2 separate regions of the Homo sapiens genome follow, and region 2 is linked to region 1. Evidence: fine-mapped expression QTL. A gene starts in region 1. The other region holds a variant in brackets. All regions are shown on one strand. Distances are between the middles of the regions.

Region 1 (15,546 bases):
TCTAACTCCTGATCCACATTAATTTGCATGGCAACATACTGCCTTTTTCATTTATTAAGTAGTATTCCAACTATAACTAAATTATACTAGCAATTCAACTGAAATTGGGTATGACTGATCCTTATTAATTTTTAGGACTTAAATGTGAGAGTTGTGAGGTAATGGAGAGTATAGAGCAGAGTAGGGAATTAAAAAAAAGCCCAAGTTAGTTCTAGACTAGTGTTTCCCAACTTTGAATAAAATATGACTCATTTTAAAGAAAGAAGAAGGGAAAAAAACCCATGACTACACTGTTGACTTAAAACTTTTAAATTAATAAAAAATGATAAAGGGGATATCACCACCGATCCCACACAAATACAAACTACCATCATAGAATACTACAAACACCTCTATGCAAATAAACTAGAAAATCTAGAAGAAATGGATAAATTCCTCGACACATACACTCTCCCAAGACTAAACCAGGAAGAAGTTGAATCTCTGAATAGACCAATAACAGGAGCTGAAACTGTGGCAATAATCAATAGCTTACCAACCAAAAAGAGTCCAGGACCAGATGGATTCACAGCCAAATTCTACCAGAGGTACAAGGAGGAACTGGTACCATTCCTTCTGAAACTATTCCAATCAATAGAAAAAGAGGGAATCCTCCCTAACTCATTTTATGAGGCCAGCATCATCCTGATACCAAAGCCTGGCAGAGACACAACCAAAAAAGAGAATTTTAGACCAATATCTTTGATGAACATTGATGCAAAAATCCTCAATAAAATACTGGCAAGCCGAATCCAGCAGCACATCAAAAAGCTTATCCACCATAATCAAGTGGGCTTCATCCCTGGGATGCAAGGCTGATTCAATATATGCAAATCAATAAATGTAATCCGGCATATAAACAGAACCAAAGACAAAAAACACATGATTATCTCAATAGATGCAGAAAAGGCCTTTGACAAAATTCAACAACACTTCATGCTAAAAACTCTCAATAAATTAGGTATTGATGGGACATATCTCAAAATAATAAGAGCTATCTATGACAAACCCACAGCCAATATCATACTGAATGGGCAAAAACTGGAAGCATTCCCTTTGAAAACTGGCACAAGACAGGGATGCCCTCTCTCACCACTCCTATTCAACGTAGTGTTGGAAGTTCTGGCCAGGGCAATTAGGCAGGAGAAGGAAATAAAGGGTATTCAATTAGGAAAAGAGGAAGTCAAATTGTCTCTGTTTGCCGATGACATGATTGTATATCCAGAAAACCCCATTGTCTCAGCCCAAAATGTCCTTAAGCGGATAAGCAACTTCAGCAAAGTCTCAGGATAGAAAATCAATGTGGAAAAATCACAAGCATTCTTATACACCAATAACAGACAAACAGAGAGCCAAATCATGAGTGAACTCTCATTCACAATTGCTTCAAAGAGAATAAAATACCTAGGAATCCACCTTACAAGGGACGTGAAGGACCTCTTCAAGGAGAACTACAAACCACTGCTCAATGAAATTAAAGAGGATACAAACAAATGGAAGAACATTCCATGCTCATGGATAGGAAGAATCAATATCATGAAAATGGCCATACTGCCCTAGGTAATTTATAGATTCAATGCCATCCCCATCAAGCTACCAATGACTTTCTTCACAGAATGGGAAAAAACTACTTTAAAGTTCATATGGAACCAAAAAAGAGCCCGCATCGCCAAGTCAATCCTAAGCCAAATCCTAAGCCAGGAGGCATCACGCTACCTGACTTCAAACTATACTACAAGGCTACAGTAACCAAAACAGCATGGTACTGGTACCAAAACAGAGGTATAGATCAATGGAACAGAACAGAGCCCTCAGAAATAACGCCGCATATCTACAACTATCTGATCTTTGACAAACCTGACAAAAACAAGCAATGGGGAAAGGATTCCCTATTTAATAAATGGTGCTGGGAAAACTGGCTAGCCATATGTAGAAAGCTGAAACTGGATCCCTTCTTTACACCTTATACAAAAATCAATTCAAGATGGATTAAAGACTTAAATGTTAGACCTAAAACCATAAAAACCCTAGAAGAAAACCTAGGCATTACCATTCAGGACATAGGCACGGGCAAGGACTTCATGTCTAAAACACCAAAAGCAATGGCAACAAAAGCCAAAATTGACAAATGGGATCTAATTAAACTAAAGAGCTTCTGCACAGCAAAAGAAACTAGCATCAGAGTGAACAGGCAACCCACAAAATGGGAGAAAATTTTTGCAACCTACTCATCTGACAAAGGGCTAATATCCAGAATCTACAACGAACTCAAACAAATTTACAAGAAAAAAACAAACAACCCCATCAAAAAGTGGGTGAAGGACATGAACAGACACTTATCAAAAGAAGACATTTATGCAGTCAAAAAACATATGAAAAAATGCTCACCATCACTGGCCATCAGAGAAATGCAAATCAAAACCACAATGAGATACCATCTCACACTAGTTAGAATGGCCATCATTAAAAAGTTAGGCAACAACAGGTGCTGGAGAGGATGTGGAGAAATAGGAACACTTTTACACTGTTGGTGGGACTGTAAACTAGTTCAACCATTGTGGAAGTCAGTGTGGCGATTCCTCAGGGATCTAGAACTAGAAATACCATTTGACCCAGCCATCCCATTACTGGGTATATACCCAAAGGACTATGAATCATGCTGCTATAAAGACACATGCACACGTATGTTTATTAAGGCACTATTCACAATAGCAAAGACTTGGAACCAACCCAAATGTCCAACAATGATAGACTGGATTAAGAAAATGTGGCACATATACACCATGGAATACTATGCAGCCATAAAAAATGATGAGTTCATGTCCTTTGTAGGGACATGGATGAAATTGGAAATCATCATTCTCAGTAAACTATTGCAAGAACAAAAAACCAAACACCACATATTCTCACTCATATGTGGGAATTGAACAATGGGAACACATGGACACAGGAGGGGGAACATCACACTCTGGGGACTGTTGTGGGGTGGGGGGAGGGGGGAGGGATAGCACTGGGAGATATACCTAACGCTAGATGACGAGTTAGTGGGTGCAGTGCACCAGCATGTCACATGTATACATAGGTAACTAACCTGCACATTGTGCACATGTACCCTAAAACTTAAAAGTATAATAAAAAAATTTTTAAATTAAAACTTGCATAAATATGTTCAAATATAAAATGAATTATAAATTTCTTATGATTACAGTTTACACACAACTATAAAACCAAAACAAATTGCAAAATTGTTAAATTATATCTAACATGTATAGTACATAATAAGTACTAGGCACTTTACATCTATCAACTTATTTAATATTCACAACCCAATGAGTTGGACATGATTATTATCGCCATTTAATAGATGAGGCAACCAAGACTGGAAGAAGTTAAACAACTTGTCCAATGTCCCAAAACTGATAAATGGCAGAGCTGGATTTCACAGAAAAGTTAACAGACAAGCGAATGTGAAGAATGATACCGTTTTACAGAAGTTAAATTGTTCCTTGTAATGTGAATATGGTATTGACTTTAACTGTAGATCTTCTGGCTTTAACATACATAAATTAAAATGAGCGGGATAGTGACTAATTTCTCCCACCACTTGTTTTTCTCTTCTGTCAACTGCTAAATATATATTGGCACAGCACAAATTAATGTCATTTGGTCTTCATTTTAAGGGAATGGCTTGTTACAAATTAAGTCTACATCTGTTCTCTCAAGTTTTTTCTTAAGACAATTCCTGATTACTATTTTTCTTTATTATTGGGATTTAATTCACATACTATACAATTTATGCCTTTGAAGAGTACAGTTCAGTGGCTTTTAGCGTATTCACAAACTTGTGCAGCCATCATCACTAATTCCAGAATATTTTCATCATACCAAAAAGAAATCCCACACTCACTAAGCAGTTAATATAGTTTAGATATTCGTGCCTTCAAAATCTCATGTTAAAATTTGATCCCCAGTGTTGGAGGTGAGGCCTAGTAGGAGGTGTTTTGGTCATGGAGGGGCGGACCCCTCATGAATGGCTTGGTGCCATTCTTACTGGAGTAATCCCATGAGAACTGGTTGTTAAAAAGAGCCTGGCACCTCCCTCCTCTCTTTCCTTTTCTTGCCATGGGAAACCTGCTCCCCTTCGTCTTCTGCCATGAATAGAAGCTTCCTGAAGCCCTCACCAGAAGCAAATGCTGGTGCCATGGCCATGCTTCTTGTATAGCCTGTAGAACTGAGTCAAAAACTCTTCATAAATTACCCAGCCTAGGCATTCCTTTATAGCAATGCCCCACACTCTTCCCCACCAGCCAGTAGGTTGGCAATTATCAAACTATTTTCTGTAATGATTTTCCTATTCTGAATATTTAATATAAACGGAATTATAAAATATGTGGATCTTTGGGTCTGGCACCTTTCACTTAGCATAATTTTTCAAGGTTTATGTTGTAATCCATGCCAGTATTGAATCCCTTTTTATACCTGAATAATGTTTCATTTTGTGGATGGGATCATATACATTTCATGTACATTTTAATCAATTAATGGACATTTGAGTTGTTTCTACCTTTGGGCTACTATGATAATGCTGTGATAATATTTGAGTGCAAGTTTTTGTGTAAAAATGTTTTCAGTTCTCTTGGGTATGTAACTAGGAGTGAAATTGCCCAACTGTTTTCCAGAATAGTTGCACATTTTACTTTCCCACCAGCAATGTATGAGGATGCCAATTTCTCTACTTTCTCACCAAGACTTGATATTGTGATACTGACTTTCTGATTATAGCCATCTCAGTAGGTGTGAGTGGTATCTCAGGTGGTTTTGATTTGCATTTATCTAAGGATTAAGGATGTTGAGCAGTTTTTTGTTTGCTTATTAGCCATGCATATCTTCTTTGAAGAAATGTGTATTCAGATTCTTTGGCCATTTTGTAATTGGGTTATTTCTCTTTTTATTCAGCTGCAAGAGTTCTCTCATTAAGATCTGACAGGTTAATACAACACCAATGCAATGATAAATGCAAAAAACAGGGACTCTGAAATTGCGTGGTTGTACTCAGTTATAAGGTGGTCATCCATGAGATCCAGAATCAAATTTGATGAAATGGTTAAGATTATAATGTTTTATAATTTGTTTATTTGAAAATATACATTTTAAATGTTTGCTAGAGAGCTCTAATATCCTCAAGAATACCTACAATGTAAACACTGTTCTATGCATAGACTAAATCCTTAGCAATAGACAGAAGGAACTGAGTGCTCTTTGAGTGAGGGAATGGGCTTGACCAGTGTTTGAAGATTTAAAAATGAATATGAAGACATGTTGTGACACTAGGGTATGATTATATTTTTATATTTAAGTAGAATCTGATTATCATCAGAAAAACTCTAATTTTAAAATCCATAGCTGGCAATATCCATGAATTCAGCCCAGGTCATCAAATGCTGAAAGCACATGGGTCAGATTGACTGTCTCCATTTTTTCTTGCTTACTTCAAAGCTATGAAGAAATCCAAAGCCCTTGCTGATACTCTTCCATGATATATTCCTTTTAAATGCTTGAAAAGTTTTCCCTTCCTACAGGAATCCCCCAAACACAGCTGTCCTTACACTGAGCCCCTATTCAAATTTTGGTTCCTCTTTCTAACATTGGTCGTCAGTCAATTTTGCTGGTCTATACCAACTGCAGATCTAGAGCCAATGCTTATAGAACTTTTCTGAGAATTCTTTTAATTTCAGATAATTTTTTAAAATTACCACAAAATTAGTTTAGAAGAATTCGCAGAGAGGTACATTGGGAGGGAAATAGCTTTGAGGCCCTTTATGGATTTATGACCAAAGCTATCCAGTCAAATTCCTCCAGGTATTTTTGCTATTTCCTATGGGTATACTGAAATTACACACATTTTAAAGCTTCCTTAATCAACTTAAACAAATACAAATAATAAAATTCAGTGTCAATGAGATACTGAATCTAAAAGATAAAAGTACATCCATATTTTTATAATGATTTTTCAATTGTTATGGAAAGAAATATGAGACTATGTAAACAGAAAAAATAAAATTTCTTTTAATTAAAAAACCCACATTAAAAAATATATCCCAAGAAAATATTCCCATCACTTATTACTCCAAAGAGTAATTTGTTCAAGGAGGTTAAAGCAGTGTTACTTATAATAGTTAAAGAATCAGAAAATGTACTTTCCTAAAATTTAGGGTTAAGAAAACTATTCTAGGCCAAACACAGTGGCTCACACATGTAATCCCAGCACACTGTGAGAGGGATGGGTGATGTGGGAAGATCACTTGAGCCTAGGCATTTAAGACCAGCCTGGGCAACCTAGGGAGATCCCCTCTCTACAAGTAATAAATAATTAGCTGGGTGTGGTGGCGTGTGCCTGCCTGTAGTCCAGCTTCTGGGAGGCTGAGGCAGGAGACTCACTTGAGCTCAGGAGGTTGAGGCTGCAGTGAGCCTTGACCATGCCACTGCACTCTAGCCTGGATTACAGATTCAGACCCTGAAAAAAAAGAGAAAGGAAGGAAGGAAGGAAGGAAGGAAGGGAGGGAGGGAGGGAGGGAGGGAGGGAGGGAGGGAGGGAAGGAAGGAAGGAAGGAAGGAAGGAAGGAAGGAAGGAAGGAAGGAAGGAAGGAAGGAAGGAAGGAAAAACTAGTCTATACCAATATATAAACTATATAGCCATTAAGAATTATAAGACTTTAGAACATGTTGATCTCTGGAAATATGTTTATGAAATAATGTTAATTATAAATATGTGTTTTGTACAGATGTACATTCAAGCATTTTAATAGATTTATAAATCCTTGTGTATCATTTTGTGTTCAAACACAGCGTATTTCTTTTTTTAATCATACTTAAACAATTTATTTTTTATTTCAATAGTTTCTGAGGAACAGGTGGCTTTTTGTGACATGAACAAATTCTTTTGCAGTAATTTCTGAGATTTTGGTGTACCCATCACCAGAGCAGTGTACACTGTACTCAATACGTAGTATTTTACCCCTCACCCCACTTCCCCCTGGAGCCCCCAGACTCCACTATATCATTCTGATGCCTTTGTGTCCTCATAGCTTAGCTCCAGCTTATGAATGAGAACATATGTTTGGTTTTCCACTCTGAGTTATTTCACTTAGAATAATCATCTCTAATTCCATCCAGGTTGCTGAGAATGCCATTATTTTGTTCCTTTTTATGGCTGAGTAGTATTCTGTGGTATATATATACTATATTTTCTTTATCCACTCGTTGGTTGATGGACATTTAGGCTGGTTCCATATTTTTTGCAATTGTGAATTGCGCTGGTATAAACATGTGCAAACACAGTCTACTTCAGATTATATTTACATGTATAAATCTATTGATGTATATTAATGTACATTGACAAATAAATGTAAGGTGATGTTAACAGAATTTCATGTTTATTGAATTCTTTGGTTTTAAAACAAAGCAGCATTTCACAAAAATTATTCTATTTTATTATAAGCACTGCTTACAAACAAATTTGTTCAAAACAAATTTGGGGGTTTGGGGAATAGGTTAGGTAAAATGTTTTTACCATAGGAATTTTCAGAGCCTTTAATTTATTAACATACATTGTGGATCTCTAAAATGAAGAGATTTCTCTTATTGTTTATCTCAAAATCTACTATTTACATCACGACTTACATTTATTTTGTGTAAATAAATCTGCATAAATCTTATTTGCACTTGTTACTAATTTATCGTTTTCACCAAACTGTAACTTCTATCAGGACAGGTAAATATATCTGTCTTCTTCACCACTGTTCCTAGAGTGCCAGCCAGGGCATATAGAAGTGGCTCAATATTTTTGAAGTGAATGACTTGCTAGAGCAGCATTTAGGCAAACTAGTGCCTAAAGTCACACATTTTGGGAACTACCACTCTAAAGTTATTTAATTGTATAATAACTTCAAAGGAAAAAAATGTGTTAATGCCCCTAGGCCACTAGAGATCCATTTAATAATTATTGCTTCGCTTCAGTTGAGTCACTTACTACTTTAGGGAACAGAAGAGATTTCTCAGAGAGCACCTCATGACCTGGAAAAGTCTTGCAAAATCATTTTCATACTCTGCATCTCCAGCTGAAAAACAATGATAAAATTAGTTACCATGGAAGTTAAAGGAATCATGCTTTGCATTAACACCAACAGTCTTCTGGAACACATTTGGTAACATTAGATTTCCCATCAAAGATATTTGTTTATTTTAATAGTTCAAGCATGAAAAAGAGATATCCCTTTTGGAAGCTGCAAATTGTTGACTCACTGATTCTCATTTAGGAAAAGGGATTTCACATTACTTTATCTATTTTCTCAATAGTCAAAGCCCATGTTAAGAGAGCTTTTAAACATATTTAAAATATATGGCTTACCTACATGTTTTACATGATAATTTATGGTTATAGAAGTTAGAAAGTGCAATTTCTTTTAATATCCCCGTGGGGAAGTTATATAATTCTATAGTTTTTTAAAATATATGGAAAAGCAATATACTTTCCGTTAACTGCTAAGATTCATGAATTTTCTCCACAAGTTCTCCAGAGGAACTACTAGAAAAAACTCCACGAATCTCATTATTTGACAGTTTTGTTGAAGTGAAATTATTAAAATTGATATTAGATTTAATGACTTGTTTCCAGTAACCAAAATGGAAAGTATTCTACCAGCTGTCGATGGTTCCACACCCTGACACATCGTTAAAACCTTAGCTTCTGCCTAAACTTTAAACCTTAATAATATTTGGCGGTAGGGGAGGGGTTACATTTCAAGTCAAACAAAGGATGTATTTCCAAAGCAGCATTTACAAAGGTTAATCTGTGTATGGACTACAAAGGGGAAAGTGCAGTGCCCCAGTGATCGATCTAAGACCCCCCTCTCGTTGTTGTTGTTGTTGGGTTTTTTTGGTCTGGTTAATAAACCACCTAGAGGGATAATTTTTAAACTTAATTTGTTGAAATGGTACTTTACTAATGTATGAAAAAAATTTCCCCAAATTTGAGAATTTTTGGTAAGTTGATTTTATATTTGGGAATAAAGATCTCTTGCTTCTTCTACTGACACCTTCTACACAAAAGATAAAAGGTACTTTTACTTGGTAATCCGCAGGGAGAAAATTTACAGAAACCCAGAGCCAAAGGTGCTCTCAGGGGATCCCCTGAAACATTCAAAGCCATTGCGGCCCCAGAAGGTAAATGGCTTTCGCAGGAACACAGGTCTCCTGACTCACGGCCTAACCTTCCTTTCCCCCACACCAAAGCTCGCGCGGCACCAGCTAGAGTGAAGGTCAAAGTCAACAGAATAATCTCTGCAGTCCAGGGTCTGTGAGGGTCCTCCTATCCGAGGGAGTTTTCATGAAAGGGCATTTCCGAACATTTTATTCCAAGGACACAGTCTAGTCAAAAGACGTTTGGGATAGGGTAAACATGAGGCAAAAGAACACTTACAAAAGAAAAAAGCGCAGTTTCTTGGAGGCTTGTCAGAAGCTAAGACTGGGGAGATGAGAACCAGGGCCCTTGGCGAGAGTTGGGGTGGGAATCGCGTAAGAAAAGCAATTTCTAGAGCGGAAAGGTGACCCCACATTACAAAAAGAAATGGAGTAGAAAAATAGGCTTGACTATTCTAAAGCTGCTTCAGAAAGAATCTCCGGAAGACCACGGAGGAACCCCGCAGGGGAGCCAGGCGGATACTCAGCCGCTCGCGGTAGAAGGGCGCGCAAAGCTGCGGAGCCGCGTGTGTGGAGCTCCCCAGTGCACTCACTGCTGGCTCCCCCTCGGTGCTCTGGGCCCTTCCCAGCTCCCTCCACACAGCCCGGCTCCCTTCACACACCCCCGCCCCCTCCGAGCTCCCCGACTCCTCCCCGCGCTCCACGGCTCTTCCCGACTCCAGTCAGCGTTCCTCGGGCCCTCGGCGCCACGAGCTGTCCGGGCACGCAGCCCCTAGCGGCGCGTCGCTGCCAAGCCGGCCTCCGCGCGCCTCCCTCCTTCCTTCTCCCCTGGCTGTTCGCGATCCAGCTTGGGTAGGCGGGGAAGCAGCTGGAGTGCGACCGCCGCGGCAGCCACCCTGCAACCGCCAGTCGGAGGTGCAGTCCGTAGGCCCTGGCCCCCGGGTGGGCCCTTGGGGAGTCGGCGCCGCTCCCGGGGAGCTGCAAGGCTCGCCCCTGCCCGGCGTGGAGGGCGCGGGGGGCGCGGAGGTGAGCGGGTCGGGGAGGAGCGCGAAAGAAGGTAGCGGCGGCGGAGTTGAGGGTCAAGATGCAGTCTGCGCCACGCGCTGCATCCATCCTCCCCGATTCTGCGCCCTCACCGGGCGTCCGCCCTGAGCTGCGGGGTCCCTCATCTCCTGGCACCTTAAGGTGGAAAGTGAGAAGGGTGGAGAAGGGTGTCTGTTCCACTGATTCCCCCTCCTCCTCCTCTTGGTTCCTAGAGCTAAGGGCAAGTCCTGAGGTTGGGCCCAGGAGAAAGAAGGCAAGGAGACATTGTCCCAGGTAGGATGTGTCCCAGCAGGAAAGGACAGGCAGGTTACTTTCGCCCCCTTGATAGTCTCCCTGCTACTTTGGGTTGATGCAGGGCATTTCATGGAAGATCATGCAGTGCTGCTTTGCGAACAGGTATTTCTAGCAGTCATTTGGTTTATTTCCCAGTAATGTAATCGTGGTGTTTAGGCCATTTCTGTTAGAAAGTAATTGGCCTCTTCTTTGACTGTCCTAAATTATCTTTGAACCCTGTGTTCAGCCTCAGCCAAAACTTGTTGAAAATTATGCCCTAAAAATCTTGCTCTTAAAATAGAGCAGAGAGATAAAGAGCATTTTTGTTGGAAGATTTCCATTTATTATCTCTCCCACCCCGTGGAGAAGGATTGGTGTCAGTTTTTACTCCTCGGGCAGTTAGTTTTTTAGATGGAAAGACAGTCCAGGCCATAGTTAATTATCGCTCATCAGTATAGGAGAAAAAGAATTCAGACTCCTGCCCCACCCCCACCCCCACCCCCAACCTCCTGACTTAGATTCTGGTCCTTTTAACAGCCCCGCTGCTTGGAACCCTTTTTGTTTTCTAAACCACCTCCCCATCCTTCCTTTTCTCCACTTTATTATTTCTTCATTTTATTGATCTGTTTATTTTTTCTTTCTTTAACCCTATAATTTTTTTACTCCGATTCTCTCTTGGTTGCTTCAAAGCTTAGAGGCTATTTAATGGAAAAGCAAAACAAAACAAAACAAAACACCCGTCCTAAATAATTTGCAGGATGTTTAGAAACATAAAGAGTAACTATGTGTGCTGCCATTGGGATGGCTGCACTCTCTGCCTCTTAGCTAGTCACTCTGTCAGGGTATGGGGAAATGAGACAATATTGAGAATGACAACTTGAGCAAATTGTGCAGTAAGGAAATGAAAAGCTTTATCCAAGTCACTTTTTATTGTACTGGTGCTATGGAAAATGTGGTGAATGAACATAGTTGTATTTTAGTACTGAAAAAACAGGACAGGTGAAGACAAATTTTTAAAGAAAGGATTGTAAATGAGTTAGAAAAGTGAGAAAGAAGATACACCAAAAATGTGAAAGAGTAAGACTGCAGGCGTGATAAAGGACATAGGACATCAGGAGATGTATTTATCCCTGCTGGGCCAGAAACCAGGACATTGAGGTAACTGAGACATTAACATAACAATAACATTGATAAATCACCTACCCCTTAAGGGCCCACATGTGTTTTCAGCAAAAAGAGAAATCTGATCTAGAGAATTATTACATGTCTTTTTGTCCTGAATTTTTTTGATGTATTCCATAACAAAGAATTTTTATTGCATCCTTAGTTACACTGCCAGCCAATGTGGAGGCAGTGATCACGGACAAGACAAACATGGTTCTTCCCTCGTGCAGTTTATTGTCCAATGGGGGAAATAGTAAACAGTAAAGAAACAATTATATAAAATATTACAAAATAAATTTAACAAGGGCTGAGTGAATTATTCTGCTATAGAGATGGAACAGTATATGGAAAGCTCCCAAGGTACATAAAGTGGTTGTTGTTTTCTCTTTCTAGAAGAGAATGCTGTGGGTGGACAATATACAGATAAGGTTAGAGAGGGGAAGCGGGGACTAACTCATTCAGGACCTTTTACGTGATAGTCAGGAAGATGGCTGTAGTTCTAAGTACAAGGAGCACCGATTTTAAGGAGAGACATTTTATGACGATTTACATTTTAAGATGATTTTAGCTGCTGTGGAGATGTTTGGAAAGGGTCAAAAGAGAAAGTAGGCTGACCCATTAGGAAATGTTTGCAGAGTTCAGGTGAGATGATAGACACCTGGACTAGCCTGGTATTGGTGGAGAGGGATTTATGAAATATGTTGGAGAACAGGAATTGGTGCAGGATTTTATGTCAAAAGTGAGGGTCAGCAAGGACTTAAGAATGACTCCCAATTTTCTGATTGGAGCAACTGGTGGATAATGGTGGCATTTACACATTTCCAGGCGAATGGGACCAGCTCTGGGTGGAAAAAGTTCAGGTTTGAACCTGTGAAGTTTGAGATGTCACAGAAAGAGGTCATAACCATATCCCCTTGGGAAGCAAAAAGGGAGGCTCTCCAGGACATAAGTGGATAGACTGGTCTTTGATAGGTAAAATTGGTGATTGTTAATTTAAGGTGAAACTAATGAGCTCAGTTTTCTGGTTTTTCTCCAGCAACCTTCACCAACGTGGATACAGATACAGAGAAAATGGATAGCTGGGTCCAGGACTAGAGTTTTGCCAAGCAGATATGATGGAGAGTAAGAGAGCTGAGGATCTTTTTAAGGGAGTGACTACAAATCTAGCCTCGGTTTAAAGAGAAACCAGAGCAGGCTGAAGGAGAGTGCAGGATATTAAGCAATTAGAGAGGTAGAGGTCAACGGATCAGATTTCTTTTGCTGTTTAGAATTATCAGTGTGAATATTTAAACTAAGATTATTGGAAGTCCTGGAGACAGTGCTTGGAGATTTCAGGCAGTGAGTGACTGAGGTGGGGTAGAGGCAAAAATTCATTGTCTCCAATGAGTAAGTCAAGGAAATAAGAGCCCCTGAAGTTGAATGGTTCATCCACTTGAATGATAAAGTCCAGGAAAAACATGATAGCTATTAGGGTAGAGAGGATGACCATGTATATACTGGGAGCCAGAGTCTGCAGTCATAAGGAATAAACTAGAAGTCAGTAGAGGACAGCAGTGAGGACAGCAGTAAGGACAGGGAGAGGGTATGGTGAAGTACCATGAGCTTCAAAGGAGCTGGGTGTTTGCAGGAGAGACAATGAAGAAGAGATGTTCAGATGTGGGCTTACAAAGTGAAGATTACACCACCCCACCTCATGGCCCTGGAGAATTATGTTTTCTTGATAGCCTCTCCAAATCTGCAGGTTGTGAAATGTCATCAAAACCTCTGTGGACAGCCCTTTCAGAGTTGCTGTCATCCAATAATAAATGCCCTATTTATGTGTGAAACAAATTAGGTTCTATTTTTCAAAAGTAACATAGCACAACAGGTGCCATTCAGCTTCAGGAATGTTCAGGAAATCCTTCTAAACTGAAAACCTTAAGAGGCTGTCCAGCTGAATGTAACTGAATTCCCTATCAAAATAATACATTCTCAAGTATTAAATGTGTACAGCAAGTCAAATGCCCATTCAAGAAAACGATGTCATTGACACAGACTTTTAGATTGAGCTCCCGAAGTTGAAGTGTTAAATATAGGGTGGTGATATTACCATTATTACACAGCTTCAAGACTTATTTAGTGTTGGAAACTACCACCAGAGTCAAGTATAACCTATTTGTTTGCTGTTTAACAAAGGAAATTGAGACTCAGAGAATCAAAGTGATTGCAGAAGCTTAGGCCTGCTCTTTCACCCCTACACTATGAAGACAAAACTTTCTATAAATGACATAGTTGTTTTTTGTTTTTGTTTGTTTTTGTTTTTGTTTTGAGGCTGAGTCTCACTCTGTTGCCCAGGCTGGAGTCCAGTGGCGCGATCTTGGCTCCCTGGTTCAAGCGATTCTCCTTCCTCAGCCTCCCAAGTAGCTGGGATTACAGGCACCTGCCACCACCCCTGCCTAATTTTTGTGCCTTTTTAGTAAAGATGGGGTTTAATCATGTTGGCCAGTCTGATCTTGAACTCCTGACCTCAAGTGATCCACCTGCTTCGGCCTCCCAAAGTGCTGAGATTACAGACGTGAGCCACCATGCCCAGCCTATAAATGACATAGTTTTATCAGTTATTTAATTTGGATTCCTTATGAATAACTTCAAAAGAAAAGGTATAGACACTGTGGACATCACCTGGGAGCTTGTGAAAAAATGCAGAATGTCTAACCTCCCTCTAGACCTAAAGAATCTGAGTGTGCATTTTAAAGAGGTCCCCAGGTGATCATATTTGCATTAAAGTTTGACAAGTGCCTTTCTAGTGAGTCATTCCCTTGGAAACAGTGGTCTGCTCAGGTCAGCAGGATCATGATGCCTGGAGAACTGGGGAGGGGATCCCCTTGTAGAACAGAAAGAAGAGATACAGTCATGGAAATATTCCGAATTTTGAATATTATGAAACAACAGGAACAAAGTATGTTGTGCAAGGAGTGACGCATTTTAAGGAATGGCATTGCCTTTCCCAGAAAGTGAAGAGAGGAAATTGGAAAATTGTGAGTGGACCTTCTGATACTGCTCCTCCTTGCGTGGAAAAGGGGAAAGAACTGCATGCATATTATTCAGCGTCCTATATTCAAAGGTAACTACTACTCTTTCGCAAGTGTAATTTTTCATTACTACAAACAACAACGTAAAAATTAACATAAGTGAGGGTCAGAAAGCCACATCTACTATCGCCAAATGATGAAAGTATTAGATTGAATTCTGAATCTTTTACTAGAGTGATTTTCAATCTTGGTTGCATAATAAAACATCTGCTAATCTTTTTTAAAAAATGCTGTTGCTCAGGATGAACCCCAGAACAATTAAGTGAAAACTGGGTGGTAGGGGGGTGACCCGTCATCACTGTGTTTTAAAACTTGCCAGGTCATTGGAGAATGCACCTAGGGTTGAGAAATACTGCTTTAGTAGCTCATTCAGAAGCAGCTCTGAGATTGCAGTTCTGCTACTCCATGTGCCAAAACAGTGGGACTTTCCCTCACTACCATAAGCGTAGTGCCAAGCCAGGTCAGCAATATTCAGGTCACCCTCACTGGCCAGTTTTCAGAACATTGAGGGAAGTAGGATTTATTTCTTGAAGAAGCCTGCTTAGACTAACTTTTAAAACAAATTGATACATGTTACATATCTATGGGGTACACATGAGTATTTGTTATATCCATAGAATGTGTAATGATCTGGTTGGAGTTTTTGGGGAATCCATCACCTTGAGTATTTATCATATCTATGTGTTAAGAACATTTCAAGTCATCTCTTCTAGCTACTTTGAAATACACAGTACATTGTTACTGACTATAGGCAACC
Region 2 (15,546 bases), 26 kb after region 1:
AGGAAGACAAGATCAGGAGAAAAAAGTCGAATACACCTCTGCTAAGAGTGTCTCCACAGCTTCTCTTTTGGCTTTGAGATTTTCAATACAATGAGAAGGGAGACCCTATTATTTACAAAGCTCTTGTTATCAAAAACCAGAAAAGATAATAGTTCCACAGGTGAAGCTTTTCTAGCACTTAGCTCTAAAAAAAAAAATCTCAGGGAGCACTTCATGGAAGGGGTTTGATTATGAGGTAGACTATGGTTTTCCTCCATAATTCCCAATCCACAAATGTAATTTAAGGGGTTTCCCTGAAGCTGTTTGGTGTAGCATTTCTCCATGAAAGCCAAGAACATTGCACCAAAACAAATGTGTAAAAGCATCTGCATTTTGTAAGGATCGAAGGCATCATAGTCCAAGTATGTGGCATCTAGTACTTAAGCTTGTTTCAACAATAAAACCTAAAATAATATTTTTCTAATTAGTAGATTGATAACCTTTAAACCATTCACTCCCTGAAAAAAAACTTCTCTTAATGGGATACTAAGGCTTTTATTGTTGCTCAGTCAGCTCCCTTGCCTCCTTCCAGTCATTTGCCCAGATCTCACCTTCTCAGCGAGTCCTATGCTGGATACCATCTTAAATGCCGCTGCCTCTGCCCCAACCAGTATTCCCAATCCTTCTGACTTACCCTGCTCTACCTTTCTTTTTTTAATAACACTTACCATCTTCTAACACACTTGATTTCCATGTTAAAAATACATTTACCAGTGTCTGCCTTCCCCCAACAGAAAGTAAGTTCATGAGAAGAGGGATCTTTGTCTATCTTTTTCACTGATGCATACCCAGTGCCTAGATTTGAGCCTAGACATTGTGGACACTCAAACAGCCCATTTGTGGATGAATGAATGAACTGGGAGAGCAGGTAGATCCAGGTTGTAGTCTCCGAGTACACTGGGTAGTGCTGTTTTTCTGTATTGTATAGATATCAAATAAGAAGATGGTAAGAACTCTGTGGCCTCTTTCAAGATGATGGTATGATTGCCTTAGGGAACTAATAGCTAAGAAGCAGCTTTTCGTTGTTAAATTTCAAGTATGTTTTGTTAACTGGAATTGGACAAAGTTAAACTGTTGTTAAGTTAGAATCTGTTTTCCATTAATAGATACTTATTTAAATCAAAAATTTCAGCTGAAGGAGTCCAATACTTGATTTATACTCTAATTATATTCTGAATGTAAATAGAACTTCTAAAGGTAGTCCCTACACAAAATACCACAAATTCAGAGTTCACCGTCTGACTTGATTATATACACATTATCAATGTAAGGAAAAGACATTTGGAAAAAATACTGCATATAAATGACACAATTGGATAGTTGGGGATCATATTAAATGAGGCAGTTCAAGTGGATAAATGAGCTCCATTGGCCTTTATAGCTAGGGAAATCACAGCTTTCTAGGAAGAGAAGATGAGAAGAAAGATAAAACAGAGATATATTATTCATGTGATGGAAGAAGATACTGACATAGTTTAGAAATTCCCTGACCGGATCCAAGTTGAACTAAGGCCAGACTATATCCCAGATATTCAACCAAGTTTAAACCAGCTTGTAATAGTACTTCAAAACTAAGTTTAACTGTCAGTAACTTCTTTTGTGTCACCCTAGAACCAACTACTAGGTATTTTATGGTGTTGGATTCCAGAGTCCCTGTAATGATGATGGCAAAGCTTTGCCCCTCTATTCTAGCACGTATACAAGGAAAGAGAAAGTTTTGTCCTCCTTTTGTTTAATTCTCTTTTCCCTTACACCTGGAGCAGTATCATCCAGTAACAGGTTCTCTGTAATGGTTTGTTAGACTAAATTAGTACAACTTAAATACGTCCATATATGACCAGGTTCTTCTTATGCCAAGAGTGAACTCTGTGCTGAATCAGTTAATGTTCTACTAAATAAAGGAAATTCACATTCGCTTTCTTGTTAGGTTCATGCAAATATTGAAAACTCTTGGAATGAGGAAGAAGTTTGGAGAATTGAAATGTATATCTCCTTTGGCATAATGAGCCTTGGCTTACTTTCCCTCCTGGCAGTCACTTCTATCCCTTCAGTGAGCAATGCTTTAAACTGGAGAGAATTCAGTTTTATTCAGGTATGTGGGGTTTTGTTTGGTGAAGGATTGTGCAGGATAGGATTTCCTTGTTAAGAACAACTGCATTTTAAATATGTTCCTTATTAAAAGGGTGCCTTTGAGGCTGTATTTATGCATCTAGATACATTATGCTGGAAGCCAGCTTAGGATTGCTCTGGTTAAATAAGTGAAAGACCAGTCAGTATATGATTGTACTGGAAGACTTTGACAGCACTGCCTTCCAGTATACTATGTTAAGAACAAAAAAGTTATCTTAAAAGAGAAAAAAAAAATGAAAGTTGGGAAGGATGAGCTTAGATCAAATTTAATGTTGAAAGTCAATTTATTATTAGCCAAGTGAATGAAAAATTATTTTATGTTTTGAGTCATCTTGATTTGTCCAGAAAAATCTTATTAATTTGAACTCAAGTGGGGATGTCAATCTGAATATTTTAAAGAAATGTGTGTATATATACACACACATACAAACACAAGCAGTGGCAAACTAGGTAACTAGAGTAATGGATTATAACATGCAACCAGCCTTAAGAATTTTGTTAGTATATCAGTAGTATACTAATACGTATGGATGTCTGTAAAGGGATTTCAAACCACCATTGTATTCTTTAATAAGTTAAACATTCACCTTCTCCAATAATATCTAAATAATAAGGTTGCATATTTTAAAAATATATAACTGAAACATAGACCCTTCCTATATTTTCACAAAATCTGTACTGGTTGTATCCAAATGGTTTACAGCATAGTAGACAGATTCATGTCCTTTGGTGGTACACTTAAGTTTTGTTTCAATTCATTGCTTATTTGCTTGTTTTTTTTTTTAAGGTCCTGTAAAAATCTCATTCAAAGCAGGGCCAAAATGCTTATCTGAATTTATTTTTCCTTTTTGAAGAAAAGGGAGAGTACTTTCCCAACAGCTAGTTTAATCATACCCGAAAAGAAATAGAAGGTTCTAGACAGATGCAAATTATCATTATAAATTTAGATGAGTAATTGCAAATATTTTGCCTGCTGGAGGGTTGATATTTTCCAGTAAAGTTAGACATTACATCACTATACTGATGTAATATTACTTTTATATAACAGACTATTCTTCAAAGTAAGCACTCTTAAACATAATAATTTAGCGAACTAAAGAATGATGAGCTTTTAGAATTTAAACTGTAAAGTGCCTAACTGAAGTATTCTTAATAAACTCTATATTTTAATTGTTGTTTATATTAATACTGCAGGATTTTTCATATTTGCCTATTAACCAGTGTGTATATATGTGTGTGTGCCCATGAGGATGCTCATTTAATTTTAATTTAATTTAATTAATTTTAATAATTTTAAATTAGTTTATTTAATTTTATCATATGTCTGTTTATGTATTAACAGTGATGTGTTACCTAACAGTAGGGAACGTTCTGAGCAATGAGTCGTTAGGCAGTTTTATCATGTGAACATCATAGAGCATATTTATACAAACCATGACCTATTGCTCCCAGGCTACAAACCTGTACAGCATGTTACTGTACTGAATATTACAGGCACTTGTAACACAATGGTAAATATTTGTGTATCTAAACATATCTAAACAGAGAAAAGGTACAGTAAAAATAAGGCATATAATCTTATGGGACCACCGTTGTATATGCAGTCCATAGTTGACCAAAATGCCCTTATGTGGCACATGACTATATTTATGTGTATGTGTATACACACACACATACATACACATTTCTTTAATACACAACTGGTGGGAATGTGAATAATTTTTATAAAGAAGAGTCTAGCAGTATGTATCAGTACCCTTAAGGAAAAGCTAGATGTTTTGACCAATAATCCTACTATTAGAAACCAGTCCTAAGAAAATAAATCAAAATATGGAAAATGGCCTAACATGACATTTATAGTTGAGGAAAGTTGGAAACAGTGAATTATCAACAAAAAGGAATGGTTTAATAAATTATGCACATCCATTCAATAGAATATTATACAGTATTAATGTCATTTTCATATTTAATGACATGAGGAAAATGTTCTTGATAAAATAAATGAAGTAGTAAGAATATTAAACTGTATGCAGTAGGGCCTTATTTGTGTAACATAAGGTGTGCATATAAATAATACATATATATGCATATATAAAAATATTAATATTATTTAATTCAGTAGAGGACAAAGGTTAACTTGATAATTTAAGACAAAATAGTTTTATCAAAATATAAACATGGTGTATCTTGATAGTTTAATTTATGAGTTTCAGTCATTTGTTTCTTATTCTTTGTTTCTTTTCCTTCCTCTCCTGGCCCAAGTCTACACTTGGATATGTCGCTCTGCTCATAAGTACTTTCCATGTTTTAATTTATGGATGGAAACGAGCTTTTGAGGAAGAGTACTACAGATTTTATACACCACCAAACTTTGTTCTTGCTCTTGTTTTGCCCTCAATTGTAATTCTGGGTAAGATTATTTTATTCCTTCCATGTATAAGCCGAAAGCTAAAACGAATTAAAAAAGGCTGGGAAAAGAGCCAATTTCTGGAAGAAGGTATGGGAGGAACAATTCCTCATGTCTCCCCGGAGAGGGTCACAGTAATGTGATGACAAATGGTGTTCACAGCTGCCATATAAAGTTCTACTCATGCCATTATTTTTATGACTTCTACGTTCAGTTACAAGTATGCTGTCAAATTATCGTGGGTTGAAACTTGTTAAATGAGATTTCAACTGACTTAGTGATAGAGTTTTCTTCAAGTTAATTTTCACAAATGTCATGTTTGCCAATATGAATTTTTCTAGTCAACATATTATTGTAATTTAGGTATGTTTTGTTTTGTTTTGCACAACTGTAACCCTGTTGTTACTTTATATTTCATAATCAGGCAAAAATACTTACAGTTAATAATATAGATATAATGTTAAAAACAATTTGCAAACCAGCAGAATTTTAAGCTTTTAAAATAATTCAATGGATATACATTTTTTTCTGAAGATTAAGATTTTAATTATTCAACTTAAAAAGTAGAAATGCATTATTATACATTTTTTTAAGAAAGGACACGTTATGTTAGCATCTAGGTAAGGCTGCATGATAGCATTCCTATATTTCTCTCATAAAATAGGATTTGAAGGATGAAATTAATTGTATGAAGCAATGTGATTATATGAAGAGACACAAATTAAAAAGACAAATTAAACCTGAAATTATATTTAAAATATATTTGAGACATGAAATACATACTGATAATACATACCTCATGAAAGATTTTATTCTTTATTGTGTTACAGAGCAGTTTCATTTTCATATTAATATACTGATCAGGAAGAGGATTCAGTAACATTTGGCTTCCAAAACTGCTATCTCTAATACGGTACCAATCCTAGGAACTGTATACTAGTTCCTACTTAGAACAAAAGTATCAAGTTTGCACACAAGTAATCTGCCAGCTGACCTTTGTCGCACCTTAACCAGTCACCACTTGCTATGGTATAGGATTATACTGATGTTCTTTGAGGGATTCTGATGTGCTAGGCATGGTTCTAAGTACTTTACTTGTATTATCCCATTTAATACTTAGAACAACCCCGTGAGATAAGTAGTTATTATCCTCATTTTACACATGAGGGACCGAAGGATAGAAAAGTTATTTTTCAAAGGTCTTGCAGTTAATAAATGGCAGAGTGAGCATTCAAGTCCAGGTAGTCATATTCCAGAGGCCACGGTTTTAACCACTAGGCTCTAGAGCTCCCGCCGCGCCCCTATGCATTATGTTCACAATGCCAATCTAGATGCTTCCTCTTTTGTATAAAGTCACTGACATTCTTTAGAGTGGGTTGGGTGCATCCAAAAATGTATAAAAATATTATTATAATAAACTTATTACTGCTTGTAGGGTAATTCACAGTTACTTACCCTATTCTTGCTTGGAACATGAGCCTGGAGACCCATGGCAGTCCATATGCCTCCCTATGCAGTGAAGGGCCCTAGCAGTGTTAACAAATTGCTGAGATCCCACGGAGTCTTTCAAAAATCTCTGTAGAGTTAGTCTTCTCCTTTTCTCTTCCTGAGAAGTTCTCCTGCCTGCATAACCATTCATTAGGGAGTACTTTACAAGCATGAAGGATATTAGGGTAAGTGGCTAATTATAAATCTACTCTAGAGACATATAATCATACAGATTATTCATAAAATTTTTCAGTGCTGTCCTTCCACATTTAATTGCATTTTGCTCAAACTGTAGAATGCCCTACATTCCCCCCACCCCAATTTGCTATTTCCTTATTAAAATAGAAAATTATAGGCAAGATACAATTATATGCGTTCCTCTTCCTGAAATTATAACATTTCTAAACTTACCCACGTAGGTACTACTGAATCCAACTGCCAACAATAAAAAGACTTTTATTTAGTAGAGGCTACCTTTCCCACCAGTGACTCTTTTTCTACAACTGCCTTGTCAGTTTGGTAATTCACTTATGATTTTCTAATGTTCTCTTGGTGAATTTTATTATCTTGTACCCTCTTTTTTTTTTTTTTTTTTTTTAAAGACAGAGTCTTGCTCTGTCACCCAGGCTGGAGTGCAGTGGCACGATCTCGGCTCACTGCAAGCTCTGCCTCCCGGGTTCACGCCATTCTCCTGCCTCAGCCTCCCGAGTAGCTGGGACTACAGGTGCCCGCCACCATGCCCGGCTGATTTCTTTTTGTATTTTTAGTAGAGACGGAGTTTCACCGTGTTAGCCAGGATGGTCTCGATCTCCTGACCTCGTGATCCGCCCGCCTTGGCCTCCAAAGTGCTGGGATTACAGGTGTGAGCTACCGCGCCCGGCCTATTATCTTGTACTTTCTAACTGAGCCCTCTATTTTCTTTATTTTAATAATATTTCTCCCCACTTGAGAATCACTTGTTAGTTCTTGGTAGGAATTCAGTTGGGCAATGATAACTTTTATGGGCAAAAACATTCTATTATAGTGAAC[T/A]AATGAAAATAACAGCGTATTTTCAATATTTTCTTATTCCTTAAATTCCACTCTTTTAACACTATGCTTAACCACTTAATGTGATGAAATATTCCTAAAAGTTAAATGACTATTAAAGCATATATTGTTGCATGTATATATTAAGTAGCCGATACTCTAAATAAAAATACCACTGTTACAGATAAATGGGGCCTTTAAAAATATGAAAAACAAACTTGTGAAAATGTATAAAAGATGCATCTGTTGTTTCAAATGGCACTATCTTCTTTTCAGTACTACAAAAACAGAATAATTTTGAAGTTTTAGAATAAATGTAATATATTTACTATAATTCTAAATGTTTAAATGCTTTTCTAAAAATGCAAAACTATGATGTTTAGTTGCTTTATTTTACCTCTATGTGATTATTTTTCTTAATTGTTATTTTTTATAATCATTATTTTTCTGAACCATTCTTCTGGCCTCAGAAGTAGGACTGAATTCTACTATTGCTAGGTGTGAGAAAGTGGTGGTGAGAACCTTAGAGCAGTGGAGATTTGCTACCTGGTCTGTGTTTTGAGAAGTGCCCCTTAGAAAGTTAAAAGAATGTAGAAAAGATACTCAGTCTTAATCCTATGCAAAAAAAAAAATCAAGTAATTGTTTTCCTATGAGGAAAATAACCATGAGCTGTATCATGCTACTTAGCTTTTATGTAAATATTTCTTATGTCTCCTCTATTAAGAGTATTTAAAATCATATTTAAATATGAATCTATTCATGCTAACATTATTTTTCAAAACATACATGGAAATTTAGCCCAGATTGTCTACATATAAGGTTTTTATTTGAATTGTAAAATATTTAAAAGTATGAATAAAATATATTTATAGGTATTTATCAGAGATGATTATTTTGTGCTACATACAGGTTGGCTAATGAGCTCTAGTGTTAAACTACCTGATTAATTTCTTATAAAGCAGCATAACCTTGGCTTGATTAAGGAATTCTACTTTCAAAAATTAATCTGATAATAGTAACAAGGTATATTATACTTTCATTACAATCAAATTATAGAAATTACTTGTGTAAAAGGGCTTCAAGAATATATCCAATTTTTAAATATTTTAATATATCTCCTATCTGATAACTTAATTCTTCTAAATTACCACTTGCCATTAAGCTATTTCATAATAAATTCTGTACAGTTTCCCCCCAAAAAAGAGATTTATTTATGAAATATTTAAAGTTTCTAATGTGGTATTTTAAATAAAGTATCATAAATGTAATAAGTAAATATTTATTTAGGAATACTGTGAACACTGAACTAATTATTCCTGTGTCAGTCTATGAAATCCCTGTTTTGAAATACGTAAACAGCCTAAAATGTGTTGAAATTATTTTGTAAATCCATGACTTAAAACAAGATACATACATAGTATAACACACCTCACAGTGTTAAGATTTATATTGTGAAATGAGACACCCTACCTTCAATTGTTCATCAGTGGGTAAAACAAATTCTGATGTACATTCAGGACAAATGATTAGCCCTAAATGAAACTGTAATAATTTCAGTGGAAACTCAATCTGTTTTTACCTTTAAACAGTGAATTTTACATGAATGAATGGGTTCTTCACTTTTTTTTTAGTATGAGAAAATTATACAGTGCTTAATTTTCAGAGATTCTTTCCATATGTTACTAAAAAATGTTTTGTTCAGCCTAACATACTGAGTTTTTTTTAACTTTCTAAATTATTGAATTTCCATCATGCATTCATCCAAAATTAAGGCAGACTGTTTGGATTCTTCCAGTGGCCAGATGAGCTAAATTAAATCACAAAAGCAGATGCTTTTGTATGATCTCCAAATTGCCAACTTTAAGGAAATATTCTCTTGAAATTGTCTTTAAAGATCTTTTGCAGCTTTGCAGATACCCAGACTGAGCTGGAACTGGAATTTGTCTTCCTATTGACTCTACTTCTTTAAAAGCGGCTGCCCATTACATTCCTCAGCTGTCCTTGCAGTTAGGTGTACATGTGACTGAGTGTTGGCCAGTGAGATGAAGTCTCCTCAAAGGAAGGCAGCATGTGTCCTTTTTCATCCCTTCATCTTGCTGCTGGGATTGTGGATATAACAGGAGCCCTGGCAGCTGTCTCCAGAGGATCAAAGCCACACCCAAAGAGTAAGGCAGATTAGAGACCAGAAAGACCTTGACTACTTCCCTACTTCCACTGCTTTTTCCTGCATTTAAGCCATTGTAAATCTGGGTGTGTTACATGAAGTGAAAATTAATTCTTTCTGCCCTTCAGTTCTTTATCCTGATACCATTTAACACTGTCTGAATTAACTAGACTGCAATAATTCTTTCTTTTGAAAGCTTTTAAAGGATAATGTGCAATTCACATTAAAATTGATTTTCCATTGTCAATTAGTTATACTCATTTTCCTGCCTTGATCTTTCATTAGATATTTTGTATCTGCTTGGAATATATTATCTTCTTTTTAACTGTGTAATTGGTAATTACTAAAACTCTGTAATCTCCAAAATATTGCTATCAAATTACACACCATGTTTTCTATCATTCTCATAGATCTGCCTTATAAACATTTAAATAAAAAGTACTATTTAATGATTTAACTTCTGTTTTGAAATGTTGTATACACGTGGATTTTTTTCTCATTAAATAATAATTCTAGTATTTGATGGAGGCCTTCTAATACTTTTCTGAGTTATTTCTTTTCAGAAGCATCCAGAAAGCAATACATGTGATAGTTATGGAGGGGTTTTGTTTGTTTTTACTAAAATAGTCATTTAGAAAAACCTCCATTTACATTTATTTTATTACATTATTTCATTTTACTAGCATTCATTAAGCATCTTTAAATCAGAACACACACAATATTCAAGCTATTCTGTAAACTCCCCGTAGCAGAAATTTTGTCTTATTTACTACTAAATCCCCAGTATCTAGTATAATGTGATCTATGATGGATACTAAAGAGATATTATAATAAATAATTACCCATTTTTACAGAAAATTATGTTTTTTATCATCCCGCATCCATGCAGCCATGCCTACATCCTCTTGCCTCTTCCTCATGCCTTGCCTCCTGGCCAGTGGCCTAGCGCTACCCTGTTGTCCTAAAGAGTTTCTGCTGCTGCTGCCACTACCACCACCACCACACTGCTATATGTTGAGGAGTCCTGTACACTGTGCCACTGACAAGGAGTAACTGACCTTTGTGCCTGTGCACCAGATCTGTCTGTGGAGGTTCTGGCTTCCCCAGCTGCTGCCTGGAAATGCTTAGGTGCTAATATCCTGAGAGGAGGATTGTCAGGTAAAATACAGGACTCTCAGTTAAATTTGAATTGCAGACAAACAATAAATTACTTTTTATTATAAGCATGGGCTTTTTAAAATTTTTCTAAATCTGGCAACCCTACTTAAGGAGTGAACTTTGATCAAGGAGGTACAGCACAAAATGAAGCTAGTAGATAAATTCTCCCTTCCTTTCCCCCAGATAGGCTGTTCTAAAGTGCAATAATTCATAAGACCTTCATGAAAATATCCTCAAAGACCGAGCAATTAACTGCACTTGTTGCAAAGCTATGACAAGCTCACTAACACCTGTGTTTGTGTTCCCTTCTCCTACTGCCTCACTTCCATGTTTTTCCTCACTTCTGTTTCTCAGAGATAGTACTCCCCATAGAGTGGCAGCAGGTGAGTGTTGGTGTTGTTTGTTTATGGCAGGCTTGGGGAACCTAGACTAGTACAGTACTTTTGGTAGTGGATTCTTCTAATGGGAAGTGAAACAAGAGACAAATGATGACTTTGAGAAAGTCAGGCACGGGACCCTGCAGACTCAAAATCCAGATTTGTTGAGACCCCTGAGAGTAGAAAAACCCCTCAGGGGCAGATTCACATTGATCAAATGTACAGTCATACACTGTTAAATCAAAATAGTAACTCAGCACTACTGTGTGAAATATCAGTGTCCTGTAGGCGAGAATACCATTTGTGCCTTGATTAAACATACTTTATTCTTGAATCTGCTGTTTATAAGAATTGAAGTTATAATTCAAAAGATACTGGGATCTGTTATGGGCTGAACTGTGTTTCCTCAAAATTGATACATTGAAATCCTAACTCCCACACTACCTCAGAATGTATTTGGAGATAGGATCTTTAAAGAGGTAAAGTGAGGTCATACAGTTGGGCCCTAATCCAGTATGACTGGTGTCCTCATAAGAAGAGGAGATTAGGAATCAGGCATGCACAGAGGGAAGACCACGTGAAGTAAAAGGGAGAAGACGGCATGCCAAGGAGAGATGCCTCGAGATGAAACCAATCCTGCCAACACCTTAGTCTTCAACTTCTAGCCTCCAGAACTGTAACAAAATAAATTTCTGTTGTTAAAGCCACCCAGTCTGTGGTATTTGTTACAGCAGTCTTCAAAAACTAATACAAGGTTCATAGAATCAAAACAAGTCAATTTAGATATAGAACTCAAATAATTAATGTCATTGGAACAAACCTGTCTGATTAATCTTGCTCCACAACAAAGACAGTTCTATCCTGGGGTTATTGCACTATAACTACCCACCATTTAAACACAATAAATAGTTGTTCTAAAATCTCGGGAACATTTTTTTTTCATATAATTATTCCCATGTCATGGAACTGAAGCTTTGGGTAAAAGCGCTTTATAAATTCTTCTTTTAATTTTTTTTACTTTCAATTTGTTTACTTTTCCACTAAACACGAGTAGTTCCTGCAGCTTCCTACTTAAAAATCACTTGCAGTTTGGGTTATTGTTAGTATACTTTTCATTAGAATGGTTGTCTTCAGGGGTGACTATTCTTTTACTTTCGTTTTCTGTTCCACGTGCTTATTCTTCCCAAATGTACATTAATGATTCTGTTGGAAAGAGGTAATTACTTTTGTTTTGTTTTTAGGCTTTGTTTCTGTGCTGTCAACCTGAAAAAGTTTTTTAAAACAGTGAAGTATAGGCTGGGAGCGGTGGCTCACGCCTGTGATCCTAGCACTTTGGGAGGCCAAAGTGGGCAGATCGTTTGAACCCAGGAGTTCAAGACCAACCTGGGCAATATGGTGAAACCCCATCTCTACAAAAAACAACAAAAATTAGCCAGACACGGTGGCACACACTTGTAGTTCCAGCTGCTCGTGAGGCTAAGGTGGGAGGTGGGAGGATCACCTGAGCCCAGGGAGGTCAGGGCTGCAGTGAGCAGAGATCACGCCACTGCACCCCAGCCTGGGTGACAGAGTGAGACCCTGTCTCAAAAAAAAAAAAAATTAAGTATAATAAATTCTGGTTTTGTATGCATTTCTTCTCTTACAGAATTTCCCTAAAGCTAACCTACTAAAAACTATGACTAGATTTCATATGTGCTATAAACATTCTTTATTTAAAATAAATTACTCTAATTCAGAAAGGAATAACATTTGCTTGCACATTTAGAACATCTGGCATTAGAGACTATAAAATTCATATATAGTCTCAAATACTTATTAGACATATTCTTAATTCAAGAATATATAATTATTCATATGATTAGAAATAATTATAATTTTACTAAACATTGCTAATTAGGCAGAGTACAAACAAGAAAAAGTCAGAAGGAAAATAGAACCACAATTTGCAATATATTTATTTTAAAACATTTTTAGCTTTCTTTGTTACTTTTAAAAGTAAAACTTGTAAGTCAATATATTATTAAAACTACTAGTTAATCTTTAAGTCTACAGGTGCTACTAAGAAATTGCAATTTGTAACTTAACAGAGATATTAAATTCTGTAGAATTGTTACCACATTCAAGCATTTCTATTCTGTAGGTATAACTCATTTCCCATGTTTCTCTGCTATTTATCTTTTTGCTGAAATAATTTACTCCTTCAGTAGTCATTTCACCCTTTCACCCTTCTGTGTTTTTGTGTCATAACAGAAGAATCACTAAATAATGATTAAAATTAAGTCAACATACCAAATATAAAGTTAAAGCTTTTATGAAGCTTAATCTTTGTGCACTTACCAAGAAGAAAAGTAAACCCACTATTATTTGGGAACAAAGGACTTGGAAAATCCACGAATGGAATAATTAGTGAAAACCAGTTTTATGGATGCTGTTAAAACTACTCCAAAGCAATAATAATGACAACACACATAAACATACACACACACACACACACACTCACACACATGAGCAGTGCTTCTCAAATTTTGATGTGAGGCTGAGGATCTTGAGAGATCAGAATCTCAGAATGGAGATTCTGAGTCAGTAGGTCCACCAGGCGGCAAGAGAGTCTCCATTCCTAACAGAGTCCCTAGTAATGCCAGTGCAAGTAGCCCAAGGACCCCATTTTGAGTAGCAAGGACCTGGAGTATTTACCTTACTTTGGATAACTTACAAAATGCTTTAATTTGGCTTCAAATCAAAATAAAAAGTAATTTATAATCCTTGAAATCTTTTAATGAACATTTTTTGAGTGACTAGTATGATATGGACCAGGAAGTCCCAAAGTATGTTCTCCAGACCAATAGCATCAACATTGTTTGGGAACTGGTTAAAAGCACATATCCTTGGGCCTCACCCAGACTTACTGAAGCAGAGACTCTGCAGGTAGGGCTTGAGATTCTGTTTTAACTATTTCTCCAGACGATTCTGATACACATTAGGTTTTGAAAACTACTGCTCTAGACAGTATGCTGAGGGTCTGGGGTGCATATCAAAGTGACTCTCAAGAATCTCAGTACAGTAGGAAGGGGTCCAATTGCTGAACCAGTTGATACCATTAAGTATGTGATGAGTACAAAAACGGAATGACAGACAAGGTTGCACCCAACACAGCAAAGGATGTAAAGGTTTCCTAGAAAATGTCATGTTAACTGAATTTCATAGGGATTAGCCATCTGAAGACGGTGGCATGTACAACATAATGCAAATGTTATGCGGGAGGAAACCTGCTGGCACCTTTCGAAAACTGCAGTAATTCACCCAAGATGGCTGGCTGTGGGGTGTTTGAAGACTCCTCTACCCTTGTCCTTCTCACCTGTCCATGAGTAAAACAAATACCGTTAGAGCTAGAAAAAAAAAATTACAAAGCTGAGTCTATTAACTTGCCAAGCAAGAGAACTTACTCCATGAAGAATTTCACTGAGGAGGGAAAGTCAGGGGTTTTTAAATGTTAGAAGTGGGGAGCTTATGGGGCTTATGCTAATTAAGCATTGGAAACTGGCACTCTGGATATGGGGCAGAATGAATATATAGGTCTCTACACCATTGGTTAAATAAAATAAATATCCCATTGTTCACTAGTCAGGAAAGTCTCTTCAGTTAGGTCCAGTGAGGAAGGTGCCTGTCTAAGGTTACTGAGGCTTAAAGACCCTTATCAGCTTCAGCCTGTGCTGTTAAAATACAAGAGTCAGTTGATGTCTCCTAGGCAAGCTCTACTTTAAGTGGAAATTTTTCCTTTCCCCTCCCTCCTCTTCATCTTTCCTGATCCTGAGATGCTAGGATGACCACACAAAGGATATGCAAATAATCCAATTGTCAGCTCTCTGCCACCATCTTGGTTTGGGGTGCCATTCCACAGGATTCCATTGTATTCATCCAAGTAGTTTCAGTCTCCTTTCGATGTGGTTTACTTGGACTGTGTAACAGCAATTTAAGTCATATGAATAAAACACTTAACATGCTTTGCACTTTCCCTAGGTGGAAGCAACCTTAGACCTACTAAACTGCCCTCTAGATGTAATAAGGCCTAAGAATGGTTCTAAAGATATCTATCAGTAGCTAGGCAGCAGAGTGGTGCAGCAGAAGCATGCTGGGCCCATAAAGATACCAATGAGTAGCTGTAGAGATGAAAGAAAAACAAAAAGAATGTGGAAGCCTAGGCAAGGGGGTTGTAAAAAGAGGAGAGGGGTCAACAGTGTAAAATACTACAGACTAGTATAACAGGATGAGAACTGAAAAATGTTAATAGACTTTGACCCCAAGTGTTGGTGATCTCACAGTTTCAGAGGGCTGAGGATGAGAAAAGCGGAAGAATGACTAGAAGTGTGGAAACAGGTGCTAGAAATGCTCACTACTCTCAACAAAACTTGGTCTCTTCGGCTAGGATTTACAATCAAATGCTGCCAGTCCTAATCTAGTGTTACCATTTTTCTTTTAGGGCCAGAAATATTCAACGTCTGAGGCAGAAGGAACCTTCAAAATCACTTATCAACCTCATTCTAGAAATGAGGAGAGAAGCTCTGAGAAGTGAAGTAATATTTATTTTCATTGAATTTATATGTAATTTTAAATTCATAAATTCTATGGAAGATACAAAAATGCACGTTTAAATCTTGAATAATTTTTGAAAGTTTAAAAAACAGATTAAAAGAGTTAGAGTTTTTTAAATTTTCAGTTATGGTGTTTGAGTTATTAAATTATACTGATGATCATCATG

Direction of the effects. Alleles are on the strand shown, and positions count from the first base shown. SD is a standard deviation of normalised expression in the study named.
In carriers of allele A in region 2, the expression in ovary of the gene that starts at base 9,958 in region 1 tends to be higher than with T alone (moderate effect, 0.72 SD a copy in GTEx).

The links.
Region 2: its variant is fine-mapped to the expression of STEAP2 in ovary (GTEx, PIP 0.93).

The regions. Positions count from the first base shown.
Region 1 is chr7:90,201,783-90,217,328 of GRCh38, forward strand. STEAP2 (STEAP2 metalloreductase) reads left to right here and starts at 9,958. Exons shown (of 6, transcript NM_001244944.2): 1 at 9,958-10,263; 2 at 14,709-14,821. STEAP2-AS1 (STEAP2 antisense RNA 1) reads right to left here and starts at 9,853. Exons shown (of 3, transcript NR_110029.2): 1 at 9,518-9,853; 2 at 8,069-8,156. RefSeq lists a silencer at 10,061-10,120.
Region 2 is chr7:90,227,906-90,243,451 of GRCh38, forward strand. STEAP2 (STEAP2 metalloreductase) reads left to right here. Exons shown (of 6, transcript NM_001244944.2): 5 at 1,967-2,131; 6 at 4,432-9,778. The coding sequence ends at 4,719. LOC107986819 (a long non-coding RNA gene) reads right to left here. Exons shown (of 2, transcript XR_007060423.1): 2 at 9,682-15,546. Among named protein-coding and RNA genes, the nearest start is that of CFAP69, 9.5 kb to the right of the region's middle. RefSeq lists a silencer at 6,655-6,860. The variant T/A (reference allele first, on the strand shown) is at 7,094.